7 linked regions of the Homo sapiens genome follow. The protein of the gene in region 6 interacts with the protein of the main gene of each other region in a pairwise test. Each region holds a gene or a part of one and is shown on either strand. Other genes may lie near its edges. The genes, in order: RNF138, RNF10, TRIM59, MID1, PJA2, UBE2W and CADPS2.

Region 1 (3,500 bases), on a different chromosome or scaffold from region 6:
ACATAAGTAAAGTGAGGAGCTAGAGAGTTCCTTAAACTACATAAATCCATGTGCCCAAACTAGTAACATTTCTATGTGTAAAGCTGCAATAATGATGCTACCATGAGAAAAACTTAAGGGGTGAATTTGTACCAGAATGGGGTTTAAATGAGCTAAATGCCAGCTTGCTAATTTAGTTACTTTAGCAAGTAATCAATGAGAAATTACTTTTAGAAAAATGCCACGCTAAGTATTATGAAATTCAGTGATTTTTTTTTCAGTCTCATTTCTCAGTAAGTTTATAATCTAGTAAGATCTATGACCACAGCTTTTTTTGGCCTTTTCTATCCAATTCCCAGTCTAAATACCTTTCATCTTTTCAAAAAAAAAAAAAACACCAACCAAGAAAATTCAAATAAGAATTTCAGAGTAGAAACTTGGCTTCCAAAGAAGAGAGATGTCACATTTACTCTACCTGTTTTGCACAGCATCTGCAGCTACCAGAAAACTTCCTCATTATATTTTCAAGGTCTAAGGCCCGTTCAGGACATGCTCTCTCTCTTCTAGTCACATTTCCACGACATAGGGGACAATGTGCTCCGCTTTCCCTCATTGCAGTCAGGAAACATTTTCTACAGAAACTAAACCAAACATTGTGACACATTAATTACAAAAAAAATTACTCTCTTCATCTCTATAATTAAATACAAACAAGTGATTATAAATATGTATTCATATTAAATAAGTTAGGCTACTCATATGTACATAAATCTCAGAAGTTTAGTAACTGTATATGTATTTATCAGAGAGTAAGACTGATAACTGGACTAGATGGGAATATTTGAACAATTACACTCAAGTCTGCTTTACAACTTCTTAACATAATATATGATGAATAAATATTAATGCTACATATTAATAATATTACTAGAGGAAGCATGGTACAAAGGAAAAACCGGATCCTGGCTCTGCCATTTAGTAGCTGTGTAATCTTAGGCCAACAAATTAACGCACACTGGATCTCCATTTCCTCCCCTTACAAAATAAAAGGATGAGTAACATAAGCTTTTGTCTCAAACTGATGTATATCGACATGTTGTTCCACAAGACATAAACAGGTCTACTACAAAAGAGCACACAAATTGGTTTGGGAAGTTCTAGGATAAAGTTAATAGGTTTTACCCAAAGTTAGGTGTTACCCAAAGTTATCTGCGTGTTAACAGATATTTGGTTATTTGGTCCGGAAGTAGGGAAATTTCCCAAACAGTATGCAATGGAACATAATTTGAGAAATACTTAAGAATACTTCCGGCTTTGCCGGGCACGGTGGCTCACGCCTGTAATCCCAGCACTTTGGGACGCTGAAGCAGGCGGATCACGTGGTCAGGAGATCAAGACCATTCTGGCTACCACGGTGAAATCTCGTCTCTACTAAAAATATAAAAAATTAGCCGGGCGTGGTGACAGGCGCCTGTAGTTTCAGCTACCCGGGAGGCTGAGGCAGGAGAATGGCATGAACCCAGGAGACAGAGGTTGCAGTGAGCCGAGATTGCACCACTGCACTCCAGCCTGGGCGACAGAGCAAGACTCCGTCTCAAAAAAAAAAAAAGATTAAACATTTATAACCAACTTTCTAATTAGAATCAAACTAAAATCTTTTTATCTTCTCTAGCCCCACCAAATACCTTATTTGATCATTTTGCTTTCAAGAGAACCAGTTAAATTACAGACATATATATCTGGGATCTAGAATACATATACATTTAATCCAATCTCCTATAAATATATATGAATATTCCTCCTCTATACTAACAGAAGTTGAGAGGAAATGGTGCAGTAACAGATCACATAACCTGAGTTTCCTAACTATGCAGCACTTTTAAACAAGTCAGTTTTTCCCTCTAATATCAGTTTCCTCACTCACGAAATAATAAAAGTATCTACAACTGATTCGGCTGTTCAGAGGATTAAAATAGATAACAAGTATAAAATGCTTAACACATTATTTGTCATGGTCAGGAAAGTGCTCAATAAATAGTAGTTAATATCATTAAAGCAGCACTAGAAGTCATTACCAATTAACACCATAAACTAAAACATTAGGCAGGGCGTAGTGGCTCATGCCTATAATCCCAGTGCTTTGGGAGGACAAGGCAGGAGGACAGCTTGAGGCAAGGAGTTGAAGACCAGCCTGGGCAACATAGCAAGACCCTGTCTCTACAAAAATTAAAAATAAAAAAAATTAGCTGGGTATAGTAGCATGCACGTCCAGTCCCAGCTACTCAGGAGGCTGAGGCGAAGGATCACTTGAGCCCAGGAGGTTGAAGCTGTAGTGAGCTATGAAGGTGCCACTGCATTCCAGCCTGGGTGACAGAGCAATACTGTCTCTCAAAAAACAATAACAATTAAAAATATTTACCATAGCCAGAAACCAAAATAACGCAAAGTAAACAAGATGCCAGTTTTCACTTGCCAAACTAAAAACTAGTTTTATTTATTTTATTTTTTTGAGACAGAGCCTCGCTCTGTCGCCCAGGCTGGAGTACACTGGTGCGATCTTGGCTCACTGCAACCTCTGCCTCCAGGGCTCAAGTAATTTTCCTGCCTCAGCCTACCCAGTAGGTGGGACTACAGGCATGCACCACTGCGACGGCTAATTTTTGTACTTTTTGTAGAGATGGGATTTTGCCAGTTGCTCAGGCTAGTCTTGAACTCCTGAGTTCAAGTGATCCAGCCATCTCAGCCTCCCAAAGTGTTGGGATTACAGGCGTGAGCCATGGTGCCCAGCAAAACTAGTTTTAAAAATAGTAAAAGTAACCAAATCTGGGCACAGCAGCATGTACCTGTAGTCTTAGCCACTTGGGAGGCTGAGGTGGGAGGGTCTCTTGAGCCAATGAGTTCAAGGCCCGCCTGGGTAACACAGCATGACCCTGTCTCTAAAAAAATAGTAATAATAAAACAATGGCCAGGCACAGTGGCTCACACCTGTAATCCTGCACTTTGAGAGGCTGAGCGGGGCAAATGGCTTAAGCTCACAAGACCAGCCTGGGCAACATGGTGAAACCCCATCTCTACTAGCCTGGCATGGTGGCACATGCCTGTAGTCCCAGCTACTCAGGAGGCTGAGGTGAGAGGATCACTTGAGCCTGTGAGGCAGAGGTTGCAGTGAGCTGAGATCGTGCCACTGCACTTCAGCCTGAGCAACAGAGTGAGACCTTGTTTAAAAAAAAAAAAAAAGAAAGAAAAAGACAAAAATGAAAACGGTGGGAAATACCAAGTGTTAGGGAGGATATGAACCAACCTAAACTCACATTGGAGGCTATGGGAGTATAAACTTTTACAACCATTTGGAAAACTGGGTGGCAATATCCATTAGAGCGCATAAATTCCACTCTGAAGTATATACCCATCAAACCTATATACATAAAACCATGGGCAGTGGCTTATGCCTATAATCCCAGCACTTTGGGAGGCCAAGGCGGGAGGATTACTTGAGGCCAGCCTGGACAACATAGTGAGAC
Region 2 (3,500 bases), on a different chromosome or scaffold from region 6:
TCATTTGGGTGGTAAATGTGTGTGTGTAATATTTTTTTCCTAGTGATTTTGACTGTTTAAATGTTTAGCAACTTAAAACATTAAAAATGTGTATTAATTAAAAAAAAATCCTCAGATATGGGTGGATTTTTGAACCAGGCTGAAATGATAGATGCTGTAAAAGACTGATAAATTTTATTTTTATTTTATTTATAGATATATAATATAATATGTATATATATATTTTTTTTTGAGACAGAGTCTGGCTCTGTCACCCAGGCTGGAGTGCAGTGGCATGATCTTGGCTCACTGCAACCTCTGCCTCCCGGGTTTGAGCGATTCTCGTGCCTCAGCCTCCCGAGTAGCTGGGACTACAGGCGCCCGCCACCATGCCTGGCTGATTTTTTTTGTATTTTTAGTAGAGACGGGGTTTCACCATGTTGGCAGGCTAGTCTCGAACTCCCGAGCTCAAGTGATCTGCCCGCCTTACCTCCCAAAGTGCTGGGATTACAGGCGTGAGCCACTGTGACCGGCCAAGAAAACCACTTTTAGTGTCCACAGAATTTTCGTTAATGAACATACCATCATGTCATTAACCCTTTATTTGAGATGGAATCTCACTTTGTCGCCTGGGCTGGAGTGCAGTGGCAATAATTACTTTTAATTAATTAAATTCATTAAAATAATTAAAATTAATTTAATTAATTAAATTAACTTTTAATTTTAAATTATTTTTTTTATTTTAAAAAATTAACTGGGCATGCAGGTATAGTTAATTTTTTATTTTTATTTTTAGCAGAGATGAGGTCTTGCTATGTTGATAGGCTGGTCTTGAACTACTCTTTTTTTTTTTTTTTTTTTTTTTGAGACGGAGTCTTGCTGTGTTTCCCAGGCTGGAGTGCAATGGTGTGATCTCGGCTCACTGCAACCTCCACCTCCTCGGTTCAAACGATTTTCCTTCCTCAGCTTCCTGAGTAGCTGGCATTTCAGGCACCTGCCACCACGCCCGGCTAATTTTTGTTTTTTTTGTGTGTGTGTGTTGTGCTTTTTTTGTTTTTGTTTTTGTTTTGAGATGGAGTCTCACTCTGTTGCCAGGCTGGAATGCAGTGGTGCAATCCCGGCTCACTGCAATCTCCGCCTCCCAGGTTCAAGAGATTCTCCTGCCTCAGCGTCCTGAGTAGCTGAGATTACAGGCACGCACCACCACACCTGGCTAGTTTTTGTATTTTTAGTAGAGACGGGGTTTCACCATGTTGGCCAGCATGGTCTCAATCTCTTGATCTTGTGATCCGCCTACCTCAGCCTCCCAAAGTGCTGGGATTACAGGTGTGAGCCACCGTACTCCGCCTGGTGTTATTTTTTTTTAATTTTATTTTTTGAGGCAGAGTTTTGCACTTGTTGCCCAGGCTGGAGTGCAATGGTGCGATCTTGGCTCACTGAAACCTCTGCCTCCTGGGTTCAAGCGATTTTCTTACTCCAGCCTCCCTAGTAGCTGGGATTATAGGCGCCCGTCACCACGCCCAGCTAATTTTTTGTATTTTTAATAGAAACAGGGTATCTCTATGTTGGCCAGGCTGGTTTCGAACTCCTAACTTCAGGTGATCCACCTGCCTCAGCCTCCCAAAGTGCTGAACGTGAGCCACCACACCCAGCTGGCTTGGTCTTAAACTTCTAAACTCAAGCAATCTTCCTGTCTTGGCCTCTCAAAGTACTGGGATTATAGGTGTGAGCCACTGCGCTGGTCCACCATTTCTTTATTCTTTATTGTTGGTTTTACTGGTTGGTTTGAGCTTTTCTTTTTCTGTGTGTGGTTTTTTTTGTTTTTTTTTTTTTTGAGACAGAGTTTCGCTTTTGTTGCCCAAGCTGGAATGCAGTGGCATGATCTTGGCTCACTGCGACCTCTGCCTCCTGGGTTCAAGCGATTCTCCTGCCTCAGCCTCCCAAGTAGCTGGGATTACAGGCATGCCCTACCAGGCCCGACTAACTTTTTTGTATCTTTAGTAGAGACGGGGTTTCACCATGTTGGTCAGGCTGGTCTCGAACTCTTGATCTCAAGTGATCCACCCGCCTTGACCTCCCAAAGTGCTGGGATTACAGGTGTGAGCCATGGTGCCTGGCTGGTTTGAGCTTTTCTGATATTACATACAATGCTGTAACAATAAACGCGTGACTAAAGTTTTGACTACATCTCTGGGTTTCTTAGATTTCTTATATCAAGAGCAGAGCTACAGACCTTATTTTAAGACCATTGTTAAATTATTTTCTAGGAAATCATGCTAAATTACCCCATTTTCACCCCAGAGAAAAGGCTGTATTTGAAAATTCCTATTTAGCTACACCATCGTGAGCTTTGAATGTTGCATTTCTTTGATCTTGCTGGCATTCTTATAGATGAACAGCACAGCCAGTACTCCAAGTTGCTGCTGGCCTCTAAGGAGCAGGTGCTGCACCGGGTAGTTCTGGAGGAGAAAGTAGCACTAGAGCAGCAGCTGGCAGAGGAGAAGCACACTCCCGAGTCCTGCTTTATTGAGGCAGCTATCCAGGAGCTCAAGGTGAGAGGATGCATTGGAGATGCTAAACCTTTTCACTTTCTCGGCGTTCTGTGGTGAAAACCAGAAATGCTAAACCTTTTCACTCTGTCGGGGGTGAGATGATGGACGCTGGGGATTAAGTTAGTTCCATTCCACATTTAAGACAATAAGCAGAGAATGGCTAAAAAAGCCAATTTGTTTTGGGCTTTGTTTGATGACAGTAGAGAAGGTTTAACCTAGGGCTTTTAAAGCTCTTTCTAGAGCTGAAAGGAGCAAGTCAAAATGATTTTATAACTAATTGTGACAGTGGAGTTTTTTAGATTAGCTATGTTCTTAAAGCAAGTTAGAGTTCTTTGTTTTCTGGGAAAATACTTAAGATTCTATTCTAGAGGTGTTTTGAAAGACATTGTGGAGAAAGTATTATGGCCTGCCCAGTATGCCTTAGGAGTACCTGAAACGGCAAGAATTACACAAGAACAGAATTCCCTGGGTCTTTTATCTTCCACAACAGAGATTCTTGAAGCATCACAACCACTGGTTGTTAGGTCCCACTTTGAGATATTGATTGCATAGGTTAAGCTCAGTAGGCTCAGTAATTTGCATATAACAAGTTCTAGGGTGATTCTGATGGCTGCTCATCCCCAGACCACACTCCTGGAACCACTGATCTAGCTTAGAGCAATAGAAGCCCATATTTATTGAGTGATCAGCATTTGATAGGACTTGTGCTATACACATTTATCTCACTTAAGCTTCTAGTGTGGTAGATAGAACTATCCCCTTTCATGGATGAGGAAACTGAATCCTGGGTTGGGTAATTTGCTAGTAAGGGATGCAGCTGGTATTTGAATTCCCTTCTCCCTGACTCCCAAGGGCTCCTTGGGTAGAGTCCTGTGTATTTAACTTTTGCTTTCTTTCTATAATACGTTGCAGCCGTATTTGTTCAAATGCCATTACAGGCATAAGAAAGGCTACATAGAATTAGAGCTG
Region 3 (3,500 bases), on a different chromosome or scaffold from region 6:
AGATGTTCATCCTAGAAAATATACATAGGTTAATTTTTTGTTCTTTTTCTTCCTTTCAGAAGCCTAGACTGGTTGTGGAAAATTTCTGCTGCATAAAATTTCATATTGGTTTCTGAAAGAACTAGCCTGTAAGCATGGTAGCCACCTGTATCTTTTTTTTTTCTAAAAAAGGCAGGGTCTTGCTCTGTTGCCTAGGCTGGAGTGCAGTGGCACAGTCGTGGCTCACTGCAGCCTCAACTTCTTGGGCTCAAGTGATCCTCCTGCCTCAGCTCCCCGCGTAGCTGGGATTATAGGCGTGTATCACTGTGCCTGACTAATGTTTAATTTTTTGTAGAGAATGGGGGTCTCTTGGTGTTGCCCAGGTTGGTCTTGAACTCCTGGCTTCAAGTGATCTTCCCACCTTGGCCTCCCAAAGTGCTGGAATTACAGGTGTGAACCACTGCACCTGGCCCACCTATATAGTTTACTTCTCAGGCAGCAACCAGAGTCAGAAAGTTCCTGACCTTACAAAGTTATTTTTCAGTTCTAGTTTCTCTTGAATTTGTTGCCTAAAATTAGTTTTTAATCAATAAATCAGTGAGAAAAGGGTAGTCTGAGAATAGATTTTGACTTCTGTGAACTTCAAGTTATCCACAAATTTTTGTCTAAAAAGTATTATTAAAAATTTTACATATGATAGCAGTAACTTTGAGACCAACCACGATTTTTGCTTCCTATTTTTTTTTTTTCCTTTTTTTGAGACAGAGTCTTGCTCTGTTGCCCTGGCTGGAGTGCAGTTGCGCCATTTCATGCCTCAGCTTCCCGAGTAGCTGGGATTATAGGGATTACAGGTGTGCGCCACCATGCCTGGCTAATTTTTGTATTTTTAGTAGATACAGGGTTTCACCATGTTGGCCAGGCTGGTCTCAAACTCCTTGCCTCAAGTGATCCACCTGCTTTGGCCTGCTTCCATTTTATATAAGCTTAGGATATGCTTTACAATGTCATGAATATTCTCATTCTAAAGAAAGTTGAGCTTTTGGGCCCCTAAGTGCATTCTCAGAGTTGTTCCCTAGTTTTCTGCAAGCATAGAATAGGGGTTTGGATAGAAAAGTTAGATTCTGTTTTAGGACTAGTTTTGCTACTTAAACAATTGAATAGCTCCAGTAATATTAAATCTAGATTAAATGTACGTCGACTGCTCAAATTTTATTTCCTACAAAGTGTTATTCTGTTTATTCCTTCAATGTGAATTCTGACATCACTGAAATACTCTGAAAAACACATTTGTTTTTCTTGGGTGGTTTCTGTATGACTTCATAGCTTTCTGTAGGTGTAGGGTAAAGTTGTAAAGTCTTGCCAGCATGCACTCACTTGAATTTATCTGCAGTGAATGTCATCTTCTTTACTGTTGCTCAATTACTTTAATTTGCTGGAATGCTCTACAGTTCAAGCTTAGTCTCTGTGTGACACACTTTGGCTCATTCGGGATCTGAATATTGTCAGTTTGAATGGAGTGCTTTTTTTCTTTTTTCTTTTTTTTTTTTTTTTTTTGAGATGGAGTCTCACTCTGTTGCCCAGGCTGGTGTGCAGTGGTGTGAACTTGGCTCACTGCAAGCTCTGCCTCCCGGGTTGACGCCATTCTCCTGCCTTAGCCTCCCAAGTGGCTGGGACTACAGGCGCCCACCACCACACCTGGCTAATTTTTTTGTATTTTTAGTAGAGACGGGGTTTCACCCTGTTAGGCAGGATGGTCTCAATCACCTGACCTCATGATTCACCCACCTCGGCCTCCCAAAGTGCGGAGATTACAGGCGTGAGCCCCCGCACCTGGCCTGAATGGAGTATTTTCTGATAGATTTTCGTTTTACACCTTTTCCTAAGCAGAGATTTTGCTATTAAAAAAACAAAAAACAAAAAACCCCAAAACAAAAATCTGTATTAACACAGGTCTCTGAAAAGGCATTTGTTCATTGAAGCAGTAACAAGTGAATGCCTGCAGTGTTAAAATTTGTGCCTAAATTGCAGGAATATAACCATTGTTTAGACACAATTCCTGCCCTTATAGGAGGCCTACATTCTAATGTATACAGAAAAGTTACAAAATTCTTAAATAAAATCTTGTTAAAGTGCTATGAAGTAAAAATGCAGTGTTTAATGAGAATAACAGGGGACCTAATCTGGGGAAAAGGCAGGCTCAAGTTGAGCCTTGAAGGAAGAGTTAAGAGTTTGACAGATCGTAAAGATAAGGAGCCAAGTTTGCATTTTATTAAAAATGCAGTTAGTTACTTTTAGTTGCTGTTTTCACAGATTTTTAATCTTAAAAGTTAGTTTTATAGCATGTGATTTGGTAACCTTTATATTTTACGTGAATGGCACTTGGGTGTTTATTTTTTTTGAGACGGAGTTTCGCTCTTGTTGTCCAGATGAGTGCGGTGGTGTAATCTTGGCTCACTGCAACCGCCACCTACTGAGTTCAAGCAATTCTCCTGTCTCAGCCTCCCAAGTAGCTGGGATTACACGCATTTGACACCACACTGGGCTAATTTTGTATTTTTAGTAGAGATGGAGTTTCTCCATGTTGGTCAGGCTGGTCTCAAACTCCCAACCTCAGGTGATCCGCCCGCCTCGGCCTCCCAAAGTGCTGGGATTATATGCGTGAACCACTGCGCCTGGCCATGGCACTTGGGTTTTTAAGTTTTGCCTAAGGTACTTTCAACAGTGGTATAACTTGATTTTTCTCTATCAAGGGGTAAGCTAGTCTTTAGAATTGTGGCTGATGCATTGAGGGTAGGTATAAAGGAAAGCAGTAGGAGGTGGTAGGGTGCAAAATGGTCAGGCTTCTGTTACTGGAAATATCAGTAGTAGCTTGCCAAGAGGTCAAGTTACTTGTGTCAGAGATGGTCTCTGAACTATCGCTACGTTTCTTTTTCTGTCTCAGAGAAATACGGATCGAGAGACTTTCATGAAGGAAAGATGACTAATGGTCTTCTTTTTGTTCTTTACCATTTAGTGCTCTAGTTTTTCACTTAAAAATTAATTCACAGTTACTATAGTCAACTCTTATCTTTCAAACTGATTTTTATTATAAGAATTAATTCAAAATTTTTCTGTCTTCTAAATCTGCAAGTTAAAATTATTGCTTTAGAGAATTATACTATGCTGATCCTGGGGTTTAAGCGTTCTTGTATTCTAATTTGAGAAGCTAAAAAATTTATGGTAGTAACAGTTACTGTGGAGAAATTTGATAGCTTGCTTTAGAAACCATTATTGAGCCAACTGGGACATGTTTCCTCCTTTTGTGTTAAAGAATATACTTTTGCTAAGCCTAACTTGTTGTAATAGAAATAGTCTTGTCTACTCATTATATGTGCTTGGTTTTGATTTTATCATCTTAAATGTTAAAATGTTGCACAAAATAGTTGTAATCACTAAGTAGACTTTAACAGAACACTTTGAATTTTAGTCTTTATTATGTAGTGTATTAGTCTGTTTTCATGCTGCTGATAAAGACATACCTG
Region 4 (3,500 bases), on a different chromosome or scaffold from region 6:
ACAGCTCATACATGCATTGCCTTTGCTATGATTAACTTTGGTGGTACTTTTCTCCTGTGCTGCCATGCACTGTTCTGGAAAGCCTGTCAGCGGCTGTCTTCTGTTGTCTGTGTCACCTGAGTCCTTGTGCTTGACTTCCTCTACATGGTTTAAAGATGGATTTGCACCAGTAATTCTTTGGATACTTGAAGTGAAACATGCTGCCCAGGTGATGCTTTTGTTGCCCAAGTGACATTGAGAAGCAGGAATTGACTTCAGCATGTCGGCTTCCCTCAACATGTCAAGAAATAGCAAAGCCAAATCCCAGATGTGGTCCGTTAATCCCACTGTCACAGAATAAACTATGTGGTCCCAGTAAACACAACCACCCATTAGCGCTAAGGAGAGGTGATAGAAACCATTTGTTAAAGGTGACACTGTTTTCTAAGTGATAACACTCTTTTGATCATGTGATTCATTTTGTTTGCTCAACAACATGGTATGTGTTTTTCCTGAGAGGAAGGACTTCAATATATATTTACTTAGAGCTTTTAATTTATACTTCCTTTCTTTTAATTGGTGTCTTGTGATCTAAAATTAGCTGATGAACATAGTATCTCACTCAAACTCTCTCAGCTGAGTTTTCAATAATTAGACCCACTGTTGCCTGAAATTGAACAAACATGTGGAGACTTGGCTTATTATTTCTTCCCTAGTGCTTTCTATCCATACTTAGAGAGTGATTTTTTTTTTTTTTTTTTTTGAGAGAGAGTCTCGCTCTTTCACCCAGGCTGGAGCGCAGTGGCGCGATCTTGGGTCACTGCAACATCCACCCCCCAGGGTCAAGTGATTCTCCTGCCTCAGCCTCCCGAGTAGCTGGGATTACAGGCACCCACCACCACACCCGGCTAATTTTTTTATTTTTAGTAGAGATGGGGTTCCACCATGTTGGCCAGGATGGTTTTGAACTGCTGACCTCAAGTGATTCACTCTCCTCGGCCTCCCAAAGTGCTGGGATTACAGGCATGAGCCACCACGCCCTGCCTAGAAAGTGATCCTTTTATTTCACATATAGTCATATTAATCATTATCCCCCAAGCTGGAGTTAGGTTAATAATTTCATGTAAAAAATGAAGTTCAAATAGTCTTGACTGTAACCTTACTGAATAAAGAGCCTACACGAAAAGGAATTCTTTCGTGAAACCTGAGATTGTCAGAGCACTGAATTTCACCAATAAGCTGGATATCGTTTATACAAGGAATAAAAGGTCACGTGTCCTCTAAAATCCCACATTTGCTACAGACATTCTTCCCTCTATTCTTTTGTTTGTGCAGTAACTAGATACAGGTACAATGAGAGTGAATTAGTTTTCCCAGATGAGTGAGAAAAGTAAGTGTTCCCCAAATGCCCAAAGCCAGATTTTATCTGTCATTCTCTCTCTCTCTCCCTCTCTCTCCCTCTCTCTCCCTCTCTCTCTCTCTCTCTCTCTCTCTCTCCCTCTCTCTCAGAGAGAGGCAGCACTCTCTTTGGAAGAACTGTAAGGATTGAAAATGATCCAGAAAAACTGCATGGATTGAAAATGATCCAGATTTTTAGAATTTGCCCTCACCTTGACAACGCTAAAATTACAAGCAGCAGTCAACTTTTACAAGATACCCTTATTGTGTAACATTTATAGGTTGCCAAAAACATGCTAAAACTAATCAGATAACAAAGGTGAGGAGAAAACCTTCACCTGCCATGTAGCTAGCAGTGAATACACTTTTTATTTCCATGACATTTTCTGGCAGAAAGGGGTTGGCTTAAGGCGGATCGGACTAACCTTCAATTTGTCATAGCGCTCACTCAAAGCTGCCACCTGATGATCGCGGTGCCGCCCAACCAGTTTACACAAGGCACAGATTAACTGGTCATCGGTCACACAGTACATATTCACCTTCTCATCCTCATGCTCCAAGCACATCAGCCCCCGGATGTGAGAGTCCGGAATTGGCTCAATCAGACGATGGCCTGTAAAGGGCTTCTTATTCGGGTGAGTGGCTTTCAGGCACTCGTCACAGTAGGATACTTCACAAGTGACACAGGTCTTCACAGCGTCCTGGGCAGGATCCTGGTCACAAAACTGGCAGAGGACCTTCTCGGCGGAGGTCATGGTGTTGGCGTCAAAGGCCCGCTCCCGACGGGTCTCGCTGGGAGAGTTGGGCCCGCTCACTGATGCTTTCTGGAACCTGTCGATGATGTTCTGTAGGGTGACGTTGCGCTTGAGCCCGTCTAGACCTCGCTGGCTGAGGGTGATGACATGCCGGCAGGTGGGGCACTGGAAGGCGGTGATGGACTCCACAGACTCGTTGGTGGCACAGTGTGATACTAGGATGCGGTGGGCGCAGTTGAAGCAGAGGCTGTGTGCGCAGGGCAGTAGAAGAGGGTCCTCAAAGAGCTCCAGACAAATAGGGCAGGTCAGTTCTGACTCCAGTGTTTCCATCTTCAGGCAAAGCTCTCTTGTGTCATCAGCAAAACCCAAGGAAGCTGATCAGCTATCTGGAAACAAGAATGTAAGATTTGATTAGGCACAGGGAGGTCAACCATAGGGGGGTGTCAGCTTTGAATGCATCTCAGAATAATTCCAAACACAGGTCATGAAAGGGTAAGTGTGTGTACATTCCAAATAATTCTCTTTCTATTCACTGGGGAAAAAAGGAGGAAAAAGCATCCTGAGCCATCATATACCAGTTAACATTTTCTCAAAGTTCAGTAACTGAAAATGTGCAATTTTTTTTTTCAATTTTGTTTTTTAAAAGGCTTCATTCAAAACTAGAATGTAATTGAAACTGTAATTTCCATAATTTGTATTTAATCAGAATAATCTTATTGTGTCAGAGTCAGGTTTAACCTCGCACAGAAAATTAAAATGTAGAAATATTCATCAATAAACTAGAGTCTTTTATAAATTTGAATTTATAAACTTACGTATTAATGTATACGAGATTTAAGGACTTTTACTCTGCAATACCAAACCAGGTTTCAGAACAATAGGAAGGCAGTAACTATAGAAATGGGCATGAAATGTACATGAAATCAAATGTGGGGATTTCAGCAGAGATGATCGTGTTTAAGTGTGGGATGTCATTTTCCAAAATATATTCCTGAGAAAAAACATTGACTTTCACAAAGATGATTGTGATAGAGGCAATATTTTTGGCATGTGTTCATTATGTTTCTGAATAATTCTATTGTTTAATCCAGCAGTGGGACGTGGGTAGGCAGAACGAAGTGGAGAAAAATATCTGGGGGCTTTTTCAGTGGCTGCAGTAAGTTTGAGTACCAATGACTAATATTTAGAGCAATGATTTAGTTAATTAGAACAAGGATTTCAGTGGTCATCATATTCATGTGATAAGTTATGTTATGACAATGATAATGATTACAGTTGAGAAAGCAATTTAAGGAGGCTTACAAAACTGCTGAGGGACCCTTTTGGCCAAAAAACTCCCACCACGGGCTTGTCACTGTTGCCAGCAAC
Region 5 (3,500 bases), on a different chromosome or scaffold from region 6:
ATTTATTAGGATTAGTATTATTTGTTTTACAATTTTTTTTAGAGTTTGCATGTGAACTCTTCTGGTCCTAGAGTTTTCTTTGCTGGAAGGCTTCAAAGGATAAGTCCAATTATCCTTTAATAAATACAGGATTATTAGGGTTATCTATTTCTTCTTGAAAGCTTTCGGTCTTTGTATGAATCACTTTCACTCACTAAGTGAGCGTTAGTAGTTTTTGTCTTTCAAGGCATTTGTCTTATTTCATTTATTCGTTGTCATAAAGTTGTTTCTTAATTATTTTAATGCCTATAACGTCTGTAGTGGTGTCTTTCCTTTCATTCTTGTTATTAGCAGTGTGACCTCTCATTTTTATTTGGTTCTAGGTTTATTTTATTAATCTTTTCAGAGTCAACTTTTTATTTGATTGCTTTTTTTTTAATTGTTAGTTTTATTGATTTCTGCTTCTTACTATTTCTTTCTATATGCTTTGGGTTTAAATTCCTCTATGTTAATTTATTAAGGTGTAAGCTTAGGTCATTGACTTGAGACCTTTTTTCTTTTCCTTCCAAGCACTGCCTGAGGTGCTTACACAAATTTGATGCACTGATTTTTTTTAAAGTTCTTATGTCACTTCCACTTTGACCCATGAAGGTTGCTGTTTAATTTCCAAATATTTGGTGATTTTGCATGTCTCTTTCTTTGTATAATTTATTTTAAATTCTTTGATATTTGTTTTATGACCAGAATATGGTTACTCTCAGTAAATGTCCCATGTACACTTCAAAATAATGTGTATTCTGCTGTTTAGCAGTGGAGTATTCTATATCAAGTTGATTGATGATGCTTGTTAGGCCTTCTCTTTCCTTACTGAGTTTTTGTTTGTTTCATTGATCATTGAGAGAAGAGTTGAAGTCTCCAAGTATAATGGTAAGTTTGTTTATTTCTCCTTTTCAGTTTTTGCATCATGTGTATTGAACCTCCTGTTAGGTGCATGTAAATTTAGGATTGTTAAAACTTTTTGGTGAATGAACCCCTTAATCATTATATAATGCCCTCTTTATCTCTGATAGTATTCCTCATTCCAAAGTCTACTTTATCTAATATTAATACAGCCTCTCCAGCCTCCTTTTAGTGTTTGTATATTATTTTCCATCCATTTAATCTGTCTTTTATTTAAAATGGGTTTGTTCTAGACAGCCTTTTTTAATTCATCTTGAAAAATCTGTTTTTACATTGAAGTGTTTAGACTATTTACATTTAATGTAATTTTGATGTAGTTGGATTTAAATATACAATCTTAATTGTTTTCTACTTATGTGCTCTCTGATGCCTATTTTTGAGTGCATTTTATCTTCACCATTGGCTCACTACTTACACTCAACTTTTCCTCTCTTTTAAAAAGTTAATTGGCTTCTCTGTGATTTATATTTTACATCTTTAATAATAGACCATATGGAAGCAATACTATACCACATTTTATATAGTGTCAGAGCTTTACAACAGTATATTTACAATGTATATTTACAATTTCTCCTTATCTTTTGTGCTATTACTGTTTTACCTTTTACAAATGCCATAAATGCATAATACCTTGTAATATTTGTTTTATTCCTGTGCTGTCTAGTATGGTAGTCATTAGCCAGTGTAGCTATTTAAATTTGAATTTAAAGTAGTTAGTACAAGTTAAATTAAAATTGATTTTCTGTGTTATAGTGGCCTCTTTTCCAGTGCTTATTCTTTCTGCATGAAGAACTTCCTTTCACATTTCTTGGACTTCAATTCTACTGGTAACAAAGTTCCAAAGATTGTTTCACAAATACTTTGTTTCACTTTTTCTTTTGAAAGATTTTGCTGGATATAAATTTATTGTTCACAGTGTTTTTCTAATATTAAGGATGCTATTTATTATCTTTTGACTTGCACAGTTTCAAATAAGAATTTGGCTGTGATTCTTATTTAGTTCCTTTTTTCTGCTGTCAGTATCAAATATGTTTTATCAGTGGTTTTTAAATTTTATTTTATTTGTTGTTTTTTTTTGAGACAAGGTCTCGCTCTGTTGCCCAAGTGGAGTGCAGTGGTACAAGCTTGTCTCACTATAGCCTTGAGCTTCTAGACTCAAGCAATTCTCCCACCTTAGCCTCCAAAAATCCTGCATTTGCAGGCCTGAGCCACTGTGCCCAGGCTGTCATTGGTGGTGGTAGCGGTTGTTTTTGAGACAGAGTCTCACTCTGTCGCCCAGGTTGGAGTGCAATGGCGCCATCTCAGCTCACTGCAACCTCTACCTCCCGGGTTCAAGTGATTCTCATGCCTCAGTCTCCCAAGTATCTGCGATCACAGGCTCCCGCCACTACGTCTGGCTAATTTTTGTATTTAACAGGGTTTCACCATGTTGGCCATGCTAGTCTCAAACTCCTGGCCTCAAGTGGTCTGCCCTCCTTGGCCTCCCAAAGTGCTGGGATTACAGGCATGTGTCATTTGGTTTTTTTGTTGTTGTTGTTTTGTTTTTTGTTTTTGAGACAGAGTCTTGCTTTGTCTCCCAGGCTGGAGTGCAGTGGCGCCATCTCGGCTCACTGCAAGCTCTGCCTCCCAGGTTCATGCCAGTCTCCTGCCTCAGCCTCCTGAGTAACTGGGGCTACAGGCACCCGCAACCATGCCTGGCTAATTTTTTTTGTATTTTTTTAGTAGAGACGGGGTTTCACCATGTTAGCCAGGATGGTCTCAATCTCCTGACCTCGTGATCCACCTGCCTCTGCCTCCCAAAGTGCTGGAATTACAGGTGTGAGCCACCATGCCCGGCCATATCATTCGTTTTTTATAGCAGGTTAAAGATGTTAACATCTTGGGATATGTGTACATTTTTGTGTGTTTTGTATTTATACTGCTTTTGTAGGGGGGAATCACTGAGCTTCTTGGGATTTATGATCTTTTAAATAATGTATGAAAAATTCACAGCATCTTTCTCTTCTAATGTTTCCACTGCCCGCGACACCCCCCCGCCCTTCCCCCCCCTCCCCCTGCTGGTTTGCTCTCTTTTTGTGGGGTTCCAGTTAAACTCATGGCAGCTCATTTAATGCAGTCCACAATTCTTGGAGGCTCTGTTTTGGTTTTTGTTGCTGTTGTTTTTTAACATGTTTCTTTTCAGTTAAATCACTTTTTATCTAGGCTTGGATCATTTCTTTTGACTTATCTTTTTCTTTTTTTTTTTTTGAGACAGTCTCAGTCCATCACCCAGACTGGAGTGCAGTGGTGTGATCTTGGCTCACTGCAACCTCTGCCTCCCGACTTCAAGCGATTCTCCGTACCTCAGCCTCCTGAGTAGCTGGAATTATGGGCGTGCACCACCACGTCTCACTAATTTTTTGTATTTTTAGTAGAGACGGGTATCACTATGTTGGTCAGGCTGATCTTGAACTCCTGACCTAAAGTGATCCACCCATCTTGGCCTCCCAAATTGCTGGGATTACAGGTGTGAGCCACTGAGCCTGGCCTGATTTATCTTGAGCTCACTAAAAGCTTCCTCC
Region 6 (3,500 bases):
GAAACCAAGTCAAAAATGTGTTCTCTAAACTCTTTCCTTAATATTTAATTCTAAATCAAATATCAAACTTAAACATTATGTTGAATTTCTTCTTTAATATTTCTGTAAGTTACAGCATTTGTAATAAATTCTCCCTATTGTCCTATTTCAAATTCATTTTATCCTCCTTCCCTGATTTTATTTGTCTGTTCTTCTAACATTGGTGTTATCCAGGTTCTTTATTCAGCACTGTGTTACTCTTCTCACTCTTCTTTCACCTTCAGTCACCTTAAGCAGCTAACTCCCAGATCTACAGCTCTGGGAACACTTCTTTTTTTAAGGCTTAATTTCACACCCTTGTTGAAATACTTGAGTACCTCCAGACATCTCAAATTTAACACAACTAAACTTGATCTTTCCAATAACAAAGAACATTTTGTTTTTCTTTATCCTGGGTTACTGTCCACCTGTCTATTTTTGTGCTCAGTTTTTCTCTTTTCCACACTCCTCCCTCCTACATTTGAAAGGTAGCCCATTCTTTTCTTAATGTCAGTGCTGTAGTCTGGTTTTTTGTTTGTTTGTTTTTGTTTTGTTTTTTTTGAGACAGCGTCTCGCTTTGTCACCCAGGTTGGAGTGCAGTGGTGCAATCTTGGCTCACTGCAACTGCTGCCACCTGGGCTCAAGTGATCCTACCATATCAGCCTCCGAAGCAGCTGGGACTACAGGTGCATGCCACCACACCCAGCTAATTTTTTTTTTTTTTTTTTTTTTTTTTTTTTTTGCAGTTGCAAGATTTAATAGAGTGAAAACAGAGCTCCCATACAAAGGGAGGGGACCCAAAGGGGGTTGCTGTTGCCAGCTCGAATGTCTGGGTTTATTTCCTGATCGTTGTCCCTCCCTCTGTGCTCTCAGGCAACAGATGATTGGCTATTTCTTTACCTCCTGTTTTTGCCTAATTAGCATTTTAGTGAGCTCTCTTTACTATCTGATTGGTCAGGTGTGAGCTAAGTTGCAAGCCCTGTGTTTAAAGGTGGAAGCGGTCACCTTCCCAGCTAGGCTTAGGGATTCTTTGTCGGCCTAGGAAATCCAGCTAGTCCTGTCTCTCAGTGCCCCCTCTCAACAGGAAAACCCAAGTGCTGTTGGGGAGGTTGGCCGACAACCACTCTAACTGCTTCCCGCTGAATTGGGACGTAGTAGGGGTTGTGCAGTTGAGATTTCCTCAGGAGGGGTGCCTTCAATGTCATTAACATTGGAGCATGGGCTAGCAGGCCGGTCCAGGGGTCTGTGGTAGATTTTAGTCATGGACTGTCTGGGGCTCCATTTGAAGAACGATTTGTAGTTTTACAGCTTCAATTCTGGAAGAGACAAACTTAACAAGGAGGTTAAAGATAGAGGGATTGAAATGTATGGCCTGCAGTGCAGGGGATTATTTCTTTGGCACACTTTACAGGCCTTGACTATCTGCTTGATAGTTTTGAAAAGGTCTGGTCCAGTAAATAATGATTTGGCCATCTGATGGCACACCCAGCTAATTTTTATATTTTTTGTAGAGATGGGGTCTTGCCATGTTGCCCAGACTAGTCTCGAGCTCCTGGGCTCAAGCGATCAGCCCACCTCCTTGGCCTCCCAAAGTGCTGGGATTACATGTGTGAGCCACCATGCCTGGCCTAGTCCAGGTTTTTATCTTTTATTTGAACCATTACAGTAGCCTTTAGTTCTTTGAATTCCTACATCCTTTCACGGTGCCAATAGATTTGTTTGAAGGCACAGTTATCTCACTGGTTACATACCACACACATGGACATGCACACACATCCCCCCCCCCCCACACACACACTCCCACACCCCACTCCACCCCCCCACCACACACACACTCTGTCTCACTCCACCATCCCCAGAATTCCTCACCCCCTGACAGTAAAACCTCTTAATGTTTATTTCCTATGGAATCAAGTTTTTAGCCTGGCATTCAAGTCCCTGTATAGTCACATCCAAACTTAACTTTTTCTGCACCTGCATGCATTCTGTATGGTAATATTTCTATATAGTACTTCATAATTTAACTTCCATTCTGATTTTGTTTTCTAACATCTTTTAATGAAGTGGTTAGGGGAGGTAGATTCATCCTCATTTTATATGTGAAGAAATTGAAACTTGTAGAAGTGAAGTGCCTTGTTCACGTTTTAATACCTAGTTTATAGGACAGTCAAGACCCAAACCCAAGTCTTTCCTTTCCTCCTTTGCCATACTGCCAATTAGATGCGAGTACCGGTGTGGAAAAAATGCCTATTTATCTATGTAGTAATTTTCTCTCTGAAAGTGAAAGATTATATGTGGAATGAATGGTACCTTTGAAAGCTCTAGGTCAGTTATTCTCACTCTTTTTGAAATATAAGGATTCCTTTTTTAATTTACTTTTTGGTGGGGTGGGGGTGCGGAGACAGAGTCTCCCTTTGTCATCTACCTATGCTGTGGTGTAATCATAGCTCACTGCAGCCTCCAACTCCTGGGCTCAAGTGATCCTTCCACCTCAGCCTCCAGAGTAGCAGGGACTACAGCCATCTGCCGCCATGCCTGGCTTGGTTTTTTTATTTTGTTTTTTTGTTTGTTTGTTTGTTTGTTTGTTTGTTTTTTATTTTTTTGAGACAGAGTCTCGCTCTGTTGCCCAGGCTGGAGTGCAGTGGTGTGATCTCTGCTCACTGCAACCTCTGCCTCCTGGGCTTAAACCATTCTCCCACCTCAGCCTCTCTGAGTAGCTGCAACTACAGGTATGCACCACCATGCCTGGCTTATTTTTTTTTGTATTTTTGGTAGAAACAAGGTTTCACCATGTTGGTCCAGCTGGTCTTGAACTCCTGTCCTAAAGTGATCTGCTCGCCTCGGCCTGTCAAAGTACTGGGATCATAGGCACGCCCAGTGAGGATTCCTTTTTAATATCAGTTAATTCTGTAGTCCCTCACATGGCATAGAGGTTGTATATTCTAATATCCATTGATTGGGAAAATGGCAGAACTACTCTGAGGCCAGTAATACGTTAAAATTTTTTAAAATGTATTTATACATAATCTATATAGTTTTAACATAATTATAATGGGTCAAACATCAATGCTTGATGTGCTTATAGACTTCAAGATTTTTCCAATAACTGAAACTTTGCAGAGATCCACTGCCCTGGGAAAGTGGCTAGAACCAGTCCTCTAGGGCAGTAAAATTCCCCCAAAATTTTATTTGATGAAACTCTGTAGCATTAGCACTTGTTACCTAAATTAGTCTTTCATCTTTCTGGCTGGGCATGGTACTCATGCCTGTAATCCAAGCACTTTGAGAGGCCAAGGCAGCCCAGGAGTTTTGGGACCAGCCTGGGCAACGTAGGGCAACCCCATCTCTAATAAAAAAAAGAAAGAAAAGTCTTTCATCTTTCTATGCAATGAACAGTACTGAGTTTATCACTAGTTACAAGAGTAGAATTTGGAAAATATTTCTAGAATAGATGAATCTCATTGTGAAATTACTGCTTTTGT
Region 7 (3,500 bases), on a different chromosome or scaffold from region 6:
AACAAACAGAACGGACATCCCAGGACTGTGGGATAACATGGGTAACAGAAACATGGGTGACATAAACATATCTAGAATACCAGAAAAAGAATAAAGAGGGGATAGGACAGAAGGAATATTTGAAGTAATAACAGCAGTGAACTTTCCAAAATTAATAATAGACACTGACCCACAGATACAGGAAGCTCAGAAAAACACCAAGCAAAAGAAATACACACAAGCACACACACCCCTAGACACAGCATATTCGAATTGCAGAAAAATGAAAGAAGGAAAAACTCTTGAAGGAAGCCATAAGGGGGAAAATAACACCTTACCTCTAAAGAGTAAAGGATAAGAACTACATTAAACTCATCAGAAATCATGCAAACAAAAAGACAGTGTGGTGAAATTTTCAGAGCGCTGAAAGAGAAAAAAAAATCTAACAGATAATTCTATATCCAGTGAAATTATACTTTAAATGCAAAGAAGAAACAAGGACTTTCTCAAACAAAAACTGAGAGACTGCATCACCACTAGTCTTGGCCTACAAGACATGATAAAAGTTCTTCAGAGATAAGGAAAATAATATCAGTAAGAAATTTGAATCTACATAAAGAAATGAAAGAGCATCAGAGGAGGAATAAATGAAGGTAAAATACATATAATCTTTTATTTTTCTTATTTTTAATTGAGCTAAAAGATAACTGTTCAAAGCAATAATAGAAAGAATATATTGGGGGTTATAGCATATTATAAATGAAGTGAATGACAGCAATGCCACAAGGGATGCGAGGAAGGAATTGGATATACTCTATTATGGAGTAGCTGCAGTACACATGAAGCCTTATAGTATAGTGTTATCTGATGGTAGGCTTAGATTATTTAAAAATATGTATTTTAAACTCTAGGAGAATCACCAAAATTTTGTTTCGTTTTTTAAAAAAATGTATAAGCAGTACACCAAAAGACACAAAATGGAATTCATATAAAGTGTTCAATCAAAATTACAGAAGGCACAAAAACTAGGGGAGGGCAAAGAACAAATGCATCAAGTGGTAAAAGCTACAAAGATTTTAAAATTTAATCCAACTACATTAGTAATCACCTTAAATATGAATGGCCTAAACATACCCATTAAAAGACCAAGATGATCAGTCTGGATTTAAAAAAAAAAAAAGAAAACTTGGGCCAAGCGCTGTGGCTCACACCTGTAATCCCAGCACTTTGGGAGGCCGAGGCGGGCGGATCATGAGGTCAGGAGATCGAGACCATCCCTGCCAACATGGTGAAACCCCATCTCTACTAAAAATACAAAAATTAGCCAGGCATGGTGGTGTGGTGCCTGTAATCCCAGCTACTTGGGAGGCTGAGGCAGAAGAATCACCTGAACCCGGGAGGTGGAGGTTGCAGTAAGTTGAGATCACACCACTGCCCTCCAGCCTGGACAACAGAGGAAGACTTCGTCTCGGAAAAAAAAGAAAAACTTCAAGACCCAATTGCACACTGTCTACAAAACATCCACTTTAAAAATAAAGACTTATGTTAAAAGTAAACAGATGGAGAAAGAGATACCATGTTAACCTTAATAAAAAGAAAGCTGGAGTGGCTGTATTAGCTTAAGACAATGTAGATTTCAGAAAAAGGAAAATAATCAGGGATAAAAAGGAATACTACATCACGATAAAGGAGTCAATTCTACAATAAAACATAACAATCCTACTACAAATATATGTACCTAATAGAGTATCAAAATATATGAGACAAATACTGATAGAACTGAAAGGACAAATAAACAAAACTGCTATTTTTTATTGTTGTTCAGGCCAACTCTGAGCAAGGACAAAGCCACTGCTACAGTTGGAGATCTGAATTGCAAGTAGGTTTCAAATCACAGAAGACTAAAACCAGGGTGCCCACAGTCCAGCTGATTCTCTAGTAGGCAGACAACTTAAACATATTTTAAGTTAATAACATAAACTCATAGGAACATGGAAATATATTTTATAACCTTGTAACATCTAGTATATTCTAATCCATATGTAATAACTCATTTAGAGGTCTTATAATATCTTTGTGTTTTAAAATCAATAAAAAATAATCCATAAGCTTTTCTTTCAAATCTCAGAACTGAAAGGAATTATAGCTTTAACTGAGACATATAAAGAGCTTGAAAGTCATCACTCCCATCCTCAGAATAAAAAGCTGGGCAAGCTGCAAATAAATGACTTTTCTTGGACTTATCAAGTCTTATCTTATATAGACTTTAGCCACTACAGAGGAAAAAATATGTTTTTTCGCTCAACTTGGATTCCCTAATACCTACAGAGGTTTTGGACTTGAATAAAGCTCAACAAATATCTACTGAATGTCTGAATCTGAGTTTTCCCACTAAATTATGTTAATCAACATTTATTTGTACAAGTGAGCTACTGTTTCACTAAAAATACAAAGTTCCAGTTGAAGTTATCTTTCAAATAGAAGATTTTGGTTTTATAGTCTTCTTCCACTATTATCAAATAACTACCTGGTTTAATAAAACAATGAAATCAATTACAGTGAGTACACAAATTGTTCACAGGGTTAAAGTGCCTCAGTGATTTACTATTAACTCTATTAATTTGTTGACTTGAAATGATCCACAAATTACCAATGCAAAGTAACCAATATGGATATAACACAGAAATTCAGAGAAGATTTGCAAAAAGATTAAAAACAAACATGTATATTATAGAAGTGTAACTCTTAAGGTAACACAAAAATTTTTAAGTGTCAGAATTTTATCAATTTAAGTTTTATATTAGGGCATAGTTAAATAATTTATACCCTCAACATAAACAAACAAAATGCAAATATAGAAGGACTACATTATTAGACAAATCATTGGGTCTAAAAAATGAAAAATGTGAAACATGATTTTATACCTCCTTCCCTGCTTTTTTTTTTTTTTTTTTTTAAGACGAGTCTTACTTTGTCACCAGGCTGGAGTGCAGTGGCACGATCTCAGCTCACTGCAACCTCCGCCTCCCAGGTTCAAGCAATTCTCCTGCCTCAGCCTCCTGAGTAGCTGGGACTACAGGCATGCACCACCACGCCCAGCTAATTTTTCTATTTTTAGTAGAAACCAGGTTTCACCATGTTGCCCACGATGGTCTCAATCTCCTGACCTCACTATCTGCCCGCCTCAGCCTCCCAAAGCATTGGGTTACAGGCGTGAGCCACCATGCCTGGCCTTTATCCCATTTTTGTATGTATAACTAGAATAACAACTGAAGAGAAAATATAATATTCACTCTGTCATCTCTTTAAATTACATAGTTCAACTATCATCCTCAATTTATTTCAATCTGGATGAGTTAAATAAAAAAATTTGAAATTTAATTACTTCCATACAACTCAGAAGACCAGCATCATATCTTTATAAAATATTATTTTGCAGTGAGAAATACCTATTTATTATAATTTGCCAAGCTTCTTCAGATAGGAGATGATTTTCCTTTTACTCTACATGGCATGGCCCA

What was found.
Region 1: the proteins of UBE2W (region 6) and RNF138 interact in a two-hybrid assay, tested with the Homo sapiens proteins (one large-scale study listed by BioGRID and IntAct).
Region 2: the proteins of UBE2W (region 6) and RNF10 interact in a two-hybrid assay, tested with the Homo sapiens proteins (one large-scale study listed by BioGRID and IntAct).
Region 3: the proteins of UBE2W (region 6) and TRIM59 interact in a two-hybrid assay, tested with the Homo sapiens proteins (one large-scale study listed by BioGRID).
Region 4: the proteins of UBE2W (region 6) and MID1 interact in a two-hybrid assay, tested with the Homo sapiens proteins (one large-scale study listed by BioGRID and IntAct).
Region 5: the proteins of UBE2W (region 6) and PJA2 interact in a two-hybrid assay, tested with the Homo sapiens proteins (one large-scale study listed by BioGRID and IntAct).
Region 7: the proteins of UBE2W (region 6) and CADPS2 interact in a two-hybrid assay, tested with the Homo sapiens proteins (one large-scale study listed by BioGRID and IntAct).

What each region holds. Positions count from the first base shown.
Region 1 is NC_000018.10:32,108,874-32,112,373, reverse strand, and holds part of RNF138 (E3 ubiquitin-protein ligase RNF138), read right to left. Parts: intron 621-3,500; coding exon 455-620; intron 1-454. UniProt on the Homo sapiens protein: E3 ubiquitin-protein ligase involved in DNA damage response by promoting DNA resection and homologous recombination.
Region 2 is NC_000012.12:120,558,356-120,561,855, forward strand, and holds part of RNF10 (E3 ubiquitin-protein ligase RNF10), read left to right. Parts: intron 1-2,370; coding exon 2,371-2,531; intron 2,532-3,500. UniProt on the Homo sapiens protein: E3 ubiquitin-protein ligase that catalyzes monoubiquitination of 40S ribosomal proteins RPS2/us5 and RPS3/us3 in response to ribosome stalling.
Region 3 is NC_000003.12:160,439,787-160,443,286, reverse strand, and holds part of TRIM59 (tripartite motif-containing protein 59), read left to right. Parts: intron 1-3,500. UniProt on the Homo sapiens protein: E3 ubiquitin ligase involved in different processes such as development and immune response. Serves as a negative regulator for innate immune signaling pathways by suppressing RLR-induced activation of IRF3/7 and NF-kappa-B via interaction with adapter ECSIT.
Region 4 is NC_000023.11:10,565,086-10,568,585, forward strand, and holds part of MID1 (E3 ubiquitin-protein ligase Midline-1), read right to left. Parts: intron 2,519-3,500; 5' UTR 2,463-2,518; coding exon 1,803-2,462; intron 1-1,802. UniProt on the Homo sapiens protein: Has E3 ubiquitin ligase activity towards IGBP1, promoting its monoubiquitination, which results in deprotection of the catalytic subunit of protein phosphatase PP2A, and its subsequent degradation by polyubiquitination.
Region 5 is NC_000005.10:109,399,975-109,403,474, reverse strand, and holds part of PJA2 (E3 ubiquitin-protein ligase Praja-2), read left to right. Parts: intron 1-3,500.
Region 6 is NC_000008.11:73,819,863-73,823,362, reverse strand, and holds part of UBE2W (ubiquitin-conjugating enzyme E2 W), read left to right. Parts: intron 1-3,500. UniProt on the Homo sapiens protein: Accepts ubiquitin from the E1 complex and catalyzes its covalent attachment to other proteins.
Region 7 is NC_000007.14:122,659,461-122,662,960, forward strand, and holds part of CADPS2 (calcium-dependent secretion activator 2), read right to left. Parts: intron 1-3,500. UniProt on the Homo sapiens protein: Calcium-binding protein involved in exocytosis of vesicles filled with neurotransmitters and neuropeptides. Probably acts upstream of fusion in the biogenesis or maintenance of mature secretory vesicles.